4 linked regions of the Homo sapiens genome follow. The protein of the gene in region 3 purifies or fractionates together with the protein of the main gene of each other region. This does not show direct contact. Each region holds a gene or a part of one and is shown on either strand. Other genes may lie near its edges.

What was found. The genes of interacting proteins can lie anywhere in the genome.
Region 1: the proteins of SPATS2L (region 3) and PLXNA3 purify together in Homo sapiens (affinity purification with mass spectrometry; one large-scale study listed by BioGRID and IntAct). This does not show direct contact.
Region 2: the proteins of SPATS2L (region 3) and CUX1 purify together in Homo sapiens (affinity purification with mass spectrometry, with the first as the bait; one large-scale study listed by BioGRID). This does not show direct contact.
Region 4: the proteins of SPATS2L (region 3) and RAPGEF1 purify together in Homo sapiens (affinity purification with mass spectrometry; one large-scale study listed by BioGRID and IntAct). This does not show direct contact.

The regions. Positions count from the first base shown.
Region 1 is NC_000023.11:154,468,281-154,471,780, reverse strand, and holds part of PLXNA3 (plexin-A3 precursor), read right to left. Parts: intron 3,479-3,500; coding exon 3,222-3,478; intron 3,119-3,221; coding exon 3,052-3,118; intron 2,959-3,051; coding exon 2,812-2,958; intron 2,726-2,811; coding exon 2,566-2,725; intron 2,403-2,565; coding exon 2,299-2,402; intron 2,094-2,298; coding exon 1,997-2,093; intron 1,805-1,996; coding exon 1,614-1,804; intron 1,340-1,613; coding exon 1,170-1,339; intron 900-1,169; exon of another isoform or gene 772-899; intron 677-771; coding exon 464-676; intron 294-463; coding exon 143-293; intron 1-142. UniProt on the Homo sapiens protein: Coreceptor for SEMA3A and SEMA3F. Necessary for signaling by class 3 semaphorins and subsequent remodeling of the cytoskeleton. Plays a role in axon guidance in the developing nervous system.
Region 2 is NC_000007.14:101,824,126-101,827,625, reverse strand, and holds part of CUX1 (Homeobox protein cut-like 1), read right to left. Parts: intron 1-3,500. UniProt on the Homo sapiens protein: May be involved in intra-Golgi retrograde transport.
Region 3 is NC_000002.12:200,477,693-200,480,228, reverse strand, and holds part of SPATS2L (SPATS2-like protein), read right to left. Parts: coding exon 2,198-2,536; 3' UTR 1-2,197.
Region 4 is NC_000009.12:131,628,577-131,632,076, forward strand, and holds part of RAPGEF1 (rap guanine nucleotide exchange factor 1), read right to left. Parts: intron 1,749-3,500; coding exon 1,660-1,748; intron 679-1,659; coding exon 526-678; intron 97-525; coding exon 1-96. UniProt on the Homo sapiens protein: Guanine nucleotide-releasing protein that binds to SH3 domain of CRK and GRB2/ASH. Transduces signals from CRK to activate RAS. Involved in cell branching and adhesion mediated by BCAR1-CRK-RAPGEF1 signaling and activation of RAP1.

The DNA.
Region 1 (3,500 bases), on a different chromosome or scaffold from region 3:
GAGAGCATCACCTGTGCCGGCCCCAGGCCCTGGTCAGGGGAGAGACCGTGAACAATCCCCAACCCCCACCAACCCTCCTGCCTTTGTCACTGGCTGCACCTTCAGGACCAAGTAACTGGGAGTCTGTGGGGATGACACACACCTCCTGGCGGTACTTGGTGACATAGAAATACAGCTCGTTGAGCGCACTCAGGACGCTGAAGTCGCTGGCGTGGAGGCGGGACTGCTCCACCAGGTAGGCATCCATGTCCTGGTCGCTGATGGATGCCATCTTTGCAATGTCTCGATAATACCTGTTGGGACCCTGAGTATGTCACTCAGGCGACATCACAAAAACTAGAACCCCTGCCCTCACTGCCCAGCCAGCCCCCGGGCTTCCTGCCTGTAGCTGGCCTGCCTCGCACAGGCAGCCCAGGGAGGGGCAGGTCCTGCCCTCTGCCACCCACAGCAGGGCGGAGCCCACCTCTCCACCCAGCTCTTGTAGTTGGGGATGTCCTTGGCGTAGAGCAGTTTGTTGGAGGGCGAGTCCTTCCCCAGGCGGTGCTCGGATGTAGAGCAGGAGTCCATGAAGGTCTGGGCTACCACCGACAGGCAGGCATCCGTGATGCTGTTCTTGTGGATGTCGAACACGAACTGCGGGTTCTTGATCACATTCACCCAGAAGCGCAGCGGCAGGCTGTGGACAACAGAGGGACGTGCGCCTGAGGCTCCCTAGTTAGCCCCAAGGGGCCCCTCCCATGTGCACATCTCTTTCCTGTCGGGCCGGCTCACATCTTGTCCAGAGGTGGTGAGAGCAACACATTTAGGGTGAACGGCCTTTCCTCTAAGTCTCTGCTGAACTTCTGTTCTCAATAGGGCTCAACCCCCTCCGCAGCTTCTCCTGTCACCGCTCTCACCACCTGCGACCGACCACCAGCATCTCTACCTGGTGCAAGACCCCAGAGGGCAAAGGCCTCACCACCACCATCCCACCCACCCAGGCAGTCCAGCTCCAGAACTGGACGCAACAGGCCCCTTGGCTTGATGGCACCGTCAGTGTCAACCCCAGGCCAGGCCTCATTCCCTCCTGCCTGGATGCTACTCCAGGCCCTGGGTCTCAGCAGAGCCACCAGCGTCTTCCGCCCACCAGTCTCCAGACAGGCTGCTGGCAGCCCAGCACGGGGTGATACCAGTTGCTCTTCCAGGTGTGGCGCACATCGGGGTCGCTGATCTGGCGCTGGTCCGCCTGCTCATCCAGGAAGTCGAACATGTACTTGATGGCCAGGGGCAGGGCCGAGCCCCGGTGGGCTGTGCTGAACACTGTCTCAAAGAGGTCATCCACGAACTTCTGCAGTGTGCCCTGTGTGGGGCAGAGAGGTCACAGGCTATGAGGGAGCCAGGTTGGGATGTCCCCAGAGCAGGACAGATGGAGGCAGAAAGGCTTGGCAAAGAGAGGGGCTTCCCTACAGGGCCAGTGGTCTCTCAGACAGACATGGCCTTTATCTAAGGCTCAGAGTTCCCACAGCAAAGACCCGAAGAAAGGCCCACTGGAAGCAAATGATCCATGGCCCCTCCCCTGTAAGGCCGGGACAACCTCTGGGCGGAGGCCAAGGTGGCGAGAGGCAGGCCCATACCTTGGTGGCCAGCAGCCGTGTCAGGTAGATCTCGGAGACCATCTTGCTGCCACGGTCCCCCTCGCGATGGTCGGCATGGTCGTGGTTTTTCACCAGGTGCCACAATTTGGTGCCTGTCTCCTGGTCAGGCGTAATCATGGGTGCCCGTGAGCGGAGGCTATCAGGGCTGCTGGCCGTGCGGAGCAAGCTCTCTGGAGCAGAGAATGCATGTGACCCTTAGGCCACCACCTGGCCCCTGCCCCACTCTCCCGGGAGCTCAGCAGCATGTGGGGACCCATCTGCCCTCGCTGGCCGACCCTCCGTCTACACTCTACAGAATCGATGGCACTTGGAAGTGGGGGTTCCCTCGAAGGGCACATGGCCACCACACTGAGGACACCTACCGTAGCGGCTGAGGGAGCGGGTGAAGGTGAAGGAGTTGGCCATGTTATAGGCAGACACTTGTTTGGGCACCAATGCCACCAAGGAACCGTCTGTCACCTGGAGGCCCCAGAGACAGAGGGGGGCAGTGCAGGAAGCTGAGAAGCCAAGGCGCCCCCACCCACCCACACCCAGGAGGGGAGCCCACGAGCCCAGGGAGAAGGGCGAGGGGAGCCAGGGCCACTGCTCCCGTGTCCTGCTGCAGCTCAAGGCAGGGTCCTGGCTCCCAGGTGGCCCTGGGGAGGAATGGGCCCCAACCCCTCACCTGGTAGTGGGCCAGTGAGTTGAGCCTCTTCCAGTCACACTCGATCTTGGTGGTGACATCCTCATCCTGGAGGATGATGCGAGTCATGCGGCCCTGGCGCCACTCTGTGGGCCACAGACAGCCCTTAAGATTATGCTGGCAGCCCCCAAGTGCCTGGCCCACTCCTCTTTGGAAACAGGGTTCAGGTGGGGAGCGGGAGAGCCCACGGAGGTCACACGGCACAGGAGGGTATGAGTGGGAGCCAGGAGGAGAGGGTGGGGACCTCACCCAGGTCCATGTCCTCAGCTTTGGGACGCTGGGAGTACGGAATGCCCTTGTACACAGTGTCCAGCAGCTTATCTTTGGCCTGGGTGATGCTGTCACAGTTGAGAACCTTCACTGGGACCTGGGCGCTGCCCTCGTTCTCCGGACACACGCAGTGAAGGGTCTGAGGGGAAAGCGGACTCCAGTGTCAGTCTGGGGCGAGGCCTCTCTCTGCACCCCTACCTCTGGCCCGCCTGGCCCTGCGCTCACCAGTGTCTTGTAGTCGATCTGCTGACGGATGAGCTTGTCCTCGCTCAGGGAGTATCGTGCCTCGCCCGTGATGGCATCAATGGGGCCCTTCTCCATCTGCTGCTTGATGGCACAGTAAAGCAGGAAGAGAGGCTCCCCAGCACACTCCTGCAGCCAGGGACAGGTGCACAGCTGGCTGCCTGCCTGACCACTGGCCGGTCCTCTGCCACCACCTCCCTGCCGCCCACCCACCTGGCGCACCTTCAGAAACTTATGCAGCAGGAACGTGAACCAGTTGGTAAGCATCTTCTCAGCCACTGACTCTGTCCTAGGGCAAGAGAAGGGGGCTCGGGCCTGGCAGGGGTGGGGCTTGGACAGGGGGCAGGCCCAGGCAGGACAAAGGTGTGGCCTGGATAGAGCAAGGCAGGTACCTGCGTAGCAGCAGCTTGGGGTGGTTCTTGCTCTCGAGGTTCTTCTCGATGAGGTCGGCCAGCAGTTGCTTGAGCAGCCCCGTGGCATAGTCGAGCCGGCTCTGCAGGGCCACCATGGTGAGCGAGGCCACGGTGCCGCGGTCGCGCATGGAGAAGCTGCTCTGGGCCTCCAGCGTGTGGATGAAGGTAAGCACGAACGCGCGGCTGTGCAGCAGCTGCCCGAAGAGGCGCAGGGCCTTCTCCACGTTGGGTGGCGTCTGTGGGGAGCAGGAGGTCTCA
Region 2 (3,500 bases), on a different chromosome or scaffold from region 3:
GGAATGAAAAGTTTTATGTGGGCCTGGTGGCTCATGCCTATAATCTCAGCTCTTTAGGAGGCTGGGACAGGAAGATTACTTGAACCCAGGAGCTCAAGACCAGCCTGGGCAACAAAGCAAGACCCTGTCTCTAAAAAAAGAAAAAAATTAAAAATTAGCCAGGCATGCTGGTGAGTGTCTGTAGTTCCAGCTACTGGGAGGCTGATGTGGGAGGACTGCTTGAGCCCCGGATGTCCAGGCTGCAGTCAGCTATGATTATGTCACTGCACTCTAACCTGGGTGACAGAATGAGACCCCGTCTGAAAAGGAAGGGAAAGGAAAAGAAAAGAAAAGAAGAGAAGAGAAGAGAAGAGAAGAGAAGAGAAGAGAAGAGAAGAGAAGGAGGGGAGGGGAGAAAAAAAGTTATACGTGGATTTTTGACTGTGCAGGTGGGGTAGGGGGAACAGCAGAAGGGATCAGCCCCTAATCCCCATGTTGTTCAAGGGTCAACTGTATTTTAACCAACACTTATGTTACTTTGCAAAGAAAGATAATTAATGGGACTGAAAAAGTAACACTTATGTTACTTTGCACAGAAAGATAATTAATGGGACTGAAAAAGAAACATCTATTCCATAGGTGTACCTATCAGTAGCTTTCAAAACACAGCCATTTTAATATAATCTACCTGCTTTCACTATATTAAAAAAAAGAATTAATTTTGCATTCTTAACCAGCTGAATGAGTCCTAAATCGGACACACAAGGCAGAGAGTGGGGGCCTGTGTGGCGATGGTGTGGTGGGTACCCAAGGGATAATCAGGGCAGAGGGAGGGAACCCAAGCTCAGAGGGGAGCCCTAGAGATCCCCGGCCACCCCACGACTGTTCTGCTGGAAAGCCCTGTCTCCCACACCTCCCCAAGCACACAGAACTCAGTGGGCGCCCCCTGCCCACTCCCCGACCCGCCTTCCAAGCCCTTCCTGCAGCCTTCCCAGAGGCTCAGACACACTGCTCCATCCATCCCAGCCTCGTCCTGCCAGTCCTGTCCGCCCTCTAGGCGGGAAGCCACTGCTATTTTAAGTCTCCATCACTACTGCCGGGCACACAGGGGCAAAAGAAAAAGGAATGCATGAAATAGGCTTGAAGGCCGGGCGCAGTGGTTCACCTCTATAATCCCAGTACTTTAGGAGACCAAGGAGGGAGGATTACTGGAGCCCAGGAGCTCAAGACCAGCCTGGGGAACAGGGCAAAACCCTGTCTCTAAAAAAAAAAATGGAAAAATCAGCCAGGCGTGGTGGTGCATGCCTATAGTCCCAGCTACCCGGGAGGCTGAGGTGGAAGGATTGCTTGAGCCCGGGAGGTCAAGGCTTCAGTGAACTATGATCTCACCACTGCACTCCAGCCGGCAACAGAGCAAGACCCTGCCTCAAAAAATCAAAAACAAAAAAAAACAAAAAAATTCTGAAGTAGGCTTGAAGCTCAGATGTACAGAGGGAGGAGGAGGGAGCTCCCCCAAATAAGCAAGATTCTGGAGTCATTCTAGCTGGGATGGAAAAGGTTTAGGTGGGGCAGAAAGGACTATCAGGAACTCTGTCTGCTACCCTAAGAAATGTGGTCTCCACTCTGTGCCTAAGTGGGCCACCATGGATGTTTAAGGAGAGGAATGGCATGATGAAATCAATGGTTCGGGAAGATTAATCTGGCAGCTGCATTTATAATGGATTGCGACCTGTTTCGAATGGGCAGTTTTGAAACAAGTAAAAGACGACGCACTCAGCTCGTGTGTTAGAAAGACTTGGCTCTCACACACAATAAGCAGCCCCGAAGACTAACTGCGCGCGCGCGCGCACACACACACACACACACACACACACACACACACACACACACACAGATTTCATTAAGGTATCAGGGCGTTTTAAGATGACAGCATAATTATATACCAACACAGAGCCACGTAAAACAATCACAAACTACTTCTTACTCCCCTGACAATGACATTCAACCATAACTGGCAATATCCTTCCTCTCCCAGTCCCACATCGATGCTGACAAACTGCGGGATGACAAACTGCGGGACCAGGGCTGAGGACCAGGTGGAGGGGAAGAGATGACCAAGCCTTCCCTCTGGGACGGCCAGCTCCGGATGGTAGCTTTACGATTCCGCAGCACAGCTCTCCAAGGGCCCTGGCCACCTTGTGGTCCTCCAGGCTCATCGGTGACTGCAGGCTCCTGGATCCCATGGAGCAGAAACCTGAACTTGTCTCCCACTTGGCTGAGTGACGAGACAGCATGCGTTACTGTGTAAGCAACGAGTTGAGATACGGCTGAAATAAAGCAATTCTGGTAAATGAATGTTTCTATGCTGGTTTAAACACATGCTCCTCTGCTCTCAATTTTCTGTCTCAAACCTGTATGACTTATAACATCTCTACTGTGTGAATAGGAAGGGAAGATGGGATTTGATTAACAGCTCTGGTCGTAATTTTAGCTGTAATCTCTGTATGTTGGGGACTCCAGCCCTTTTTCTTTTGAAAGGTTGGTATTCTCCGGGCGGTTGCTGACTACGCTCTCGGCGAGGACACAGCAGAACTGTATGCAGCAGAAATAATTCACTGGACCCAGGACTGCATGGGTTCAAGTTCTGGGTCAACTACTTGGTGAAAAACAGAAAATAATATGTTTCACCATTATCTGCCACACCTTTCAGAGTGACACAGAAATGGTGACGGGAGCCACAGAATGTTCCCAGTTCCAGAGGGAGAACGAAAGTCTTTTCCAAACCTCATCAAAAACGTTACATGTATACGATTCCCTCCAGCGAGAATTTTATTTTTAATTTTCATTTACATAGTATCTTTCTTCCAAGAATCTCAAAATAATGGAGCTGTAGAAATACTTGTTTAAAAAAAAAAGTTGTCACAACACAGGAAGGGACAGGCTTGGCAGGGCAGGAGAAGGGCGAGAAGTGACAGGCCGTCCTGACAGCAAGGGCTCCAGGTAACACCCGGAGGCTAGGCTGAGGGCGGCTCCAAGCCGGCCCTTCCCTCACTGCAGCCCACGGCTTTACCAATGCTCACAGCTTCAGGCTCTTCAAGACAAAGATTTACCTTTGGTATCATCTGCTACCTTTTATCAAATTATTTTTTATCTAAATAATCATTTCTTCCCTAGAAACAGGAGGGGAAAGTGGTAATAAGCCAGAGAAACTTACAGGCCCAAAACAACAACTCAACAAAGGTGTCTAAAAAGAGTGGAGGCCAGGCACGGCGGCTCACACCTGTAATCCCACCACTTTGGGAGGCCGAAGGGGGTGGATTGCTTGAGGTCAGGAGTTTGAAACCAGCCTGGCCAACATGGTGAAACCCTGTCTCTACTAAAAACACAAAAATTAGCTGGGCGTGGTGGTGCACACCTGTAATCACAGCTACTCGGGGGGGCTGAGGCACGAGAATCACTTGAACCTGGGAGGTGGAGGTTGCGGTGAGCGGAGTTTGTGCCACTGCACTCCAGGCTGGGCG
Region 3 (2,536 bases):
TTTCTTAACCCTAAGGGAGTGAGTCGAGGTCAAGAGTGGTTGGGTTCAACTCTGACAAAGGCAGGTGAACTCCTGACCTGGCAAATTCATTTTTTTCCCTGTTCCAAGAATTACTTGACTCATCTTTAAAGCGGTCACATTTACACTGACATTTTTCAGTGGTGAGCAAAATCTTGCTACATAAAAAACTGTGCAAAATCCTTCCGTCTTGTAATATATGAATTCAGGGCCTCAGATGGGGTAAACAGGGCCTACAGTGCCGAACATTTATCTTTCTTATTTGAACGAACAACTCTTCCTTCCTTCCTGGAATGTGACTTAACGTTAAGAATTTCTATTAAATCTCTGGGTACACCCAGAGACCTCAGAAAGCTCTCTACAGAGAGAGCAAACATCCTCCTGTACTTGGCAAAAGAAGAAACAGATGCTTGCGTGGCTTGCAGGCTCAGCTGCTCAGGGCCGCTCTGTGGAAGAGAACCAGTGAACCTGGGTTGCCAGAAAAAATGTTAATGTTGAGTTGAGAATAAGCATTTGCACTTGTGAGTAGTCAACAGATATGTAGGACATGTGAGTGCAACGGAAGCGGCACCCAAACTGGACTGCCCTGTAGTCAAAGTTAGGGGAACTGGGGCTATTTTGGGTTTGGGCCATTGGGTATCCATTTTCCCTTTCTGAGAAGTACCCCTTCTCCATCTAGCTCAGGAACTCTGGGAAGATGGCCACACCCAGGCTCCAGGGGTGGGCTCTAATTAGTCTATGCAAATTAGTTCATCCCATTCACTTCTCTCCCCCCTTTCATGATTGGTTTAAGAGACAGGCCTACCAGCAATGGTATGCAAGACCTTTGCTGGGATTTCTGAGAAAGACACTTGCTCTGTGTAGAAGCTACTAGGATAACTTCTCTCCTCTGGACAGTGTGGAAAATAGACTTGAGTCTTAAGAGCATGGTGGCCCTTTGCCACAATTCTGAATGCAATGTCAACCCAAGGAGGAAAGGAGAGCTAAGATAATTAAGAGATGGGAGCTGGCCGGGTACGGTGGCTCATGCCTGTAATTCCGGCAGTTTCGGAGGCCAAAGCAGGTGGATCACCTGAGGTCAGGGGTTTGAGACCAGCCTGGACAACATGGTGAAATCCTGTCTGTACTAATAATATAAAAATTAGCAGGGCGTGGTGGCACATGCCTGTAATCCCAGCTACTCGGAAGGCCGGGCAGGAGAATGGCTTGAACCCAGGAGGCGGAGGTTGCAGTGAGCCGAGATCATGCCATTGCACTCCACCTGGGTGACAAAGCAAGACTGTCTCAAAAAAAGAAAAAGAAAAAAGAAAAAAAAAAAAGAGATGGGAGCTGAAATCCTGATCAAATTGGACCAACTGGACTTTTCACTCACTGAACCAATAAATTCTTATTGTTGAAGCTAGGCTCAGCTGAGGTTTGTAGTACTTGCAACCAATGTTTCCAACTGCCCAACTGCCACATGGTGTGTCTAAGATGATCAGGGTGCATATCCATCTATTTGTGTAATCTAATTGAAAGGGCATATATATATTTTCCTGAAAGAGTACTTGTCTCAACAGAAACAGTATTTATTGTACACAGCTTTGCACCACAACCTCTAGTCTCTAAAGTTTTTTTTGAAAGCACTAAACAGTACATTCAATAACTAGGTGGGTATCAATAAAAGAAACTAGCCAGGTGTCAAATGCAGCATATTTTAATTTGTTTCAAATAAAGCAATATATGTATATATATTTTTTCAGAAAAACACCAGATGTTAAATTCTACAAAAGCGCATGTGTCCTCAGCAGATCATGTTTGTCTGATTATTAAGAATTCTTTTTTGTAACATTAACTCTCTAAAGACAATCAATGGACTGACATCACTGCTACAACACAGGTTGCTAACTGAGCCTCTGATCTTCAGCCACATCTTGATTTTCCTAATAATGAGTAAATACTGCCTGGCTAAAATGCTGCAAAGTCTTGATGAGAGAAAGCATCAACAGATCAAGCAAAGCCATGAAAATTATGAAGCAAGCTAGAGCTGATTATTAGAATTAGTAAAAATGATTAAGAGAGGATGACACAACCATACGGGATTTGTATATTCTGATTGACACTCTTTTGGCAGCGAATTGGGTCAGCACCTCGGGCAGGGAACCAAAACTGAGTGAAAACTGCTCTTTTTCCTCCTAGCTCAGGCCACCAACGTCACAGCCGGGACTGAGAGAACTGCTGCATCTGTGGAAACTTCTATTCTCGTGGGGCAGAGATTGCACTGTGAAACCCTACCGACACTACCCCGGAAGGGCCTGGCCTCCGAGGTGTCTGCAGCGTGCTGCCTTCGCCGGGGCTTTTCAGAATGGGCCGGGGCCTCGGGGGTCTTCATCCCCAAGGAAGCCTCTTGATTTTTGGCACCGCCTTTGTTTTTGGGCCGGAAGCCGTTGTGCGGCTGTCTTCTGTGTTCGTGGCGGCTGTTGCCCTTTCCCAGTGGCTCGGCTTCATTCCCACTGCCCTGCGACTTGGCAGGCCCATT
Region 4 (3,500 bases), on a different chromosome or scaffold from region 3:
GAGCCACTGGTGGCTCGGCTCATGGGGGCCACCACAGCCACTCGGGTAGGGGACGGCGCCGACTGTCTTTTCTTGGGTGGCAATGCTGGTGGAGGACTGAAACAGACCGAAACGTCCAGGCAGACCAAACCACACTCACCAAAGCTCTTCAGCGTGATATTGGGGTACAGGATGTGGGGTTCTTTCATTACTAGACTCTCCACACCCAATGTTCACACTTCAACTCCTGCCTACTCCCCTCCGCCAAAATAAAACCTGTAAATACCAAATGAACAAAAAAGAACAACCCTTTCTTTTTCTTTCATAATAAATCATACCATGTCTCCCTGGGCTGAGGGCACAAGGAGGCCTTCAGGAGAGCTCAGGGTGGCCAGCGAGGGCCGGCGGGGTGGGGACAGCTCCAGAGTCAGCCTCCCAAGGGGGGCCAAGCCCTCAGCGCTGAGGGGAAAGGGCCCGAGCCCTGTCTTCCTCCCTTTCTTTCTCATTCTGCCATGGGAGGCACTGGACAAATAGGAAGGTAATTACCTATTATCAACCACCCGAATGCCAGGCAGAGGAGGCTTGGGGGGCGCGACCTCTTCATCCGTGGCATCTGGGAGGAGCTCAGTTGACTGTGACATCCCAGTCGTCTTGTTTAGGATCTCTACCTCGCGGTCTGTCAGGGGGAGCTCTGCTGGGCTGGAGAATTGGGAAGAACTTGGGGTTACAGAAGGTCAAAGGCGGGACAGAGCACACACAGGCCCTGAGAGGGTGAGGACGTGACCAGGAAGAACACAGTGGGTGAGGTGGGGCTGAAGAGCAGGCTCCCTGGATATAGAACCCTGGGGTTCTGGTTTGGTTGCTAATGAGCTACTGGAGCTTGGCTGTGCCCCCAACTTTGCACCTCAATTTCCTCATCTGAAAATGATCTAAGGGTTCTCTAAAATGCTCCAGGCCGGGCGCAGTGGCTCACACCTATAATCCCAGCACTTTGGGAGGTCAAGGCGGGCAGATCACTTGAGGTTAGGAGTTTGAGACCAGCTTGGCCAAGATGGTGAAACCCTGTCTCTACTAAAAATACAAAAATTAGCTGGGCATGGTGGCGTGCACCTGTAGTCCCAACTACTTGAAAGGCTGAGGCAAGAGAATTGCTCTAATCTGAGAGGAGGAGGCTGCAATGAGCCCAGATCGCACCACTGCACTCCAGCCTGAGCCACAGAGACTCTGTCTCAAAAACAAAAAAAAAAGCTCCAAATTTATGTTTTATATTTTTACCAGGAGCTTGGAGTAGAGATGAATATAAACCTTTACAACCATCCATGTCATCCTCAGTTTACTCTTGATCAAACAAGAGTGCTCTCAAGTCAAAGCACCCAAACCCAAGCCTTTAAAAGTTCTTTGTCATTATGAAACGAAGCTGCCCAGGAAAAGCACTGGTATGTGTCACTGGATGCGCTCACAGAAGATCCTTGGAAACAGTCATGCTGAAGGGTAAACTTGAGACAGGGCAATACTTCAAGCCTGTGTGAAATATACACACACTGCTAACCACTGAAAAAGGAATATGGGCCTCCAGCAGCCCACCCTCATGCTGCCCACCCCACCGGGCCCTATCCTTGTCAAGTGCAGACTTTGCCACTGAGCGTGACACCCGCGACACGAGGGTTAGTCAGCACCTACCCATCAGGCTTGCTGGCAGGGGAACTGGGCTTCACGGGGCTCGTCGGAGACGGACGTCCCTGCTTCTCGATGGTGAGCCTGACCAGCTCCTACCCCCACAAGAAAAAGGCAATGAGCAAAGCTCCCGTCACCACTGAGTTTCCACCAGAAGGCAGGCAGGTGCTGTCTGTCCTCTGCTGCTGAGTCTCATTTCTGTGCCTACAGATTCCCCACGCACCATAAACGCAAGTATCACTTGCCTTAGGTAATCTGCATGACTTCCCAAATGTCCCCTGCCCTCCAAAAATACCTTCATGGCATGTCAAGTTTCAAATGCGTAAAGGCACTTCCTCTTGGAAGGGGAAATGGCAAACCCCAGCCTCTCAAAATGATTGTTTATCACACAAATTAAAATACTCATCAGAACAGGTTCCCAGTCAGTTTGTTGGGGAATAACTCTGTTCCTAGTTCTCTAAAGCCATTAGATCATATGCACGATGATGGCATGGGTGGTTTCCCAAGGCGAGCTGGCCACAGGTGTGGTGGAGCTGCTAGCTGGTGGGGGTGGGGTGAGGGCTGGCTGGGATCCTTGTCAATGGAGAGGGAGTTAAGGGGAGATAACCCAGCAAAGAAATCACTTTAGAACCATTAACTGAGAAAAACAGAAAAGAAAAATAGCCTTTTTCAAATCGTAGCAAAAGAAAAAAAAGGGAAGACATAAGTGCCCATGTGTTTTTTTTTTTAAATTAGAATGCATTTTTTCCCAGTTTGATGAGTTTTGACAACTGCATATACCCAAGTAAGCGCCACTAAAAACACAAAGAACATTTCTATCACCGTCTCCAGCCAATCTGCCCCGCCCCAACTGTTTAACTTCTATTATCATAGATTACTTTTGCCTGTCCTAGAACTTGATATAAATGGAACCATATCATACATACACTTTTGTGTCAACCTTCTTTTTAAAAACAGCTTTATGGATATATAACTCATATGCCATTAAATTCACCCATTTAAAGTGTACGATTCAGTGGTTTTTAGTCTGTTCACAGAGTTGTGTGACCATCAACACAATCAATTTTAGGACTTCTCATCACCCCATAAGGAAGCTCCGCATTCCCCTCGACCCCCAGCCCCTGGCAGCTGCCAATCCATTTCCTGTCCGCACATCTTTGCCTGCTCCGTCCCCCGAGCTCAGCGTCAACAGCTGTGCTTCGTGTGGGCGAGGCGCCTGCTGCTCGCTGCCAGCAGTGTTCCCACTCGTGGATGCACCACAGCTTCTCCCTCCACCTTCCTGTTGCTGGACATCTGGCCTGGCCAGGGCCTGCATGTGTGTGATGAGGGGCTTCCAGGCTTTCAGCAGAAAGCTGTTTCCAAGTTACAGAGGAGGTGGCAGCGGATGCCAGTGGGCAACACAGTAACCAGAGACCCTGAACCAGCGGCTGCCAAGCCTCTCCAGACTCAAAAAAGCACCACACACAAAAAAGGCAGCGTATGCTGCAAATAAGGCAAAGAGTCAGTTACCATCCTTTCCAGCGCAAGGGTTCTTTCGAAAACAAAAAAACTAGAAGGTGAACACGCCGAAAAAAATATCAAACAAGAAATTTACAGATACCAATGGTCAATAATCATAAGACATTCACCACCTTGGATGGTAATAAAATAGAAACTTCCAGACATGGTAGGTGGGAGCACCACTTCAGACAGCCTCTCCAGAGGGATGACTTATCAGTATATATCAAAAGCCTTAAATATTTGCATTATGAGAATTTTGCACCAGGTGCAGTGGCTCATGCCTATAATCCTAGCACTCTGGAAGGCTGAGGCAGAAGGACGGCTTGAGCCCAGGGGTTCGAGGAGCA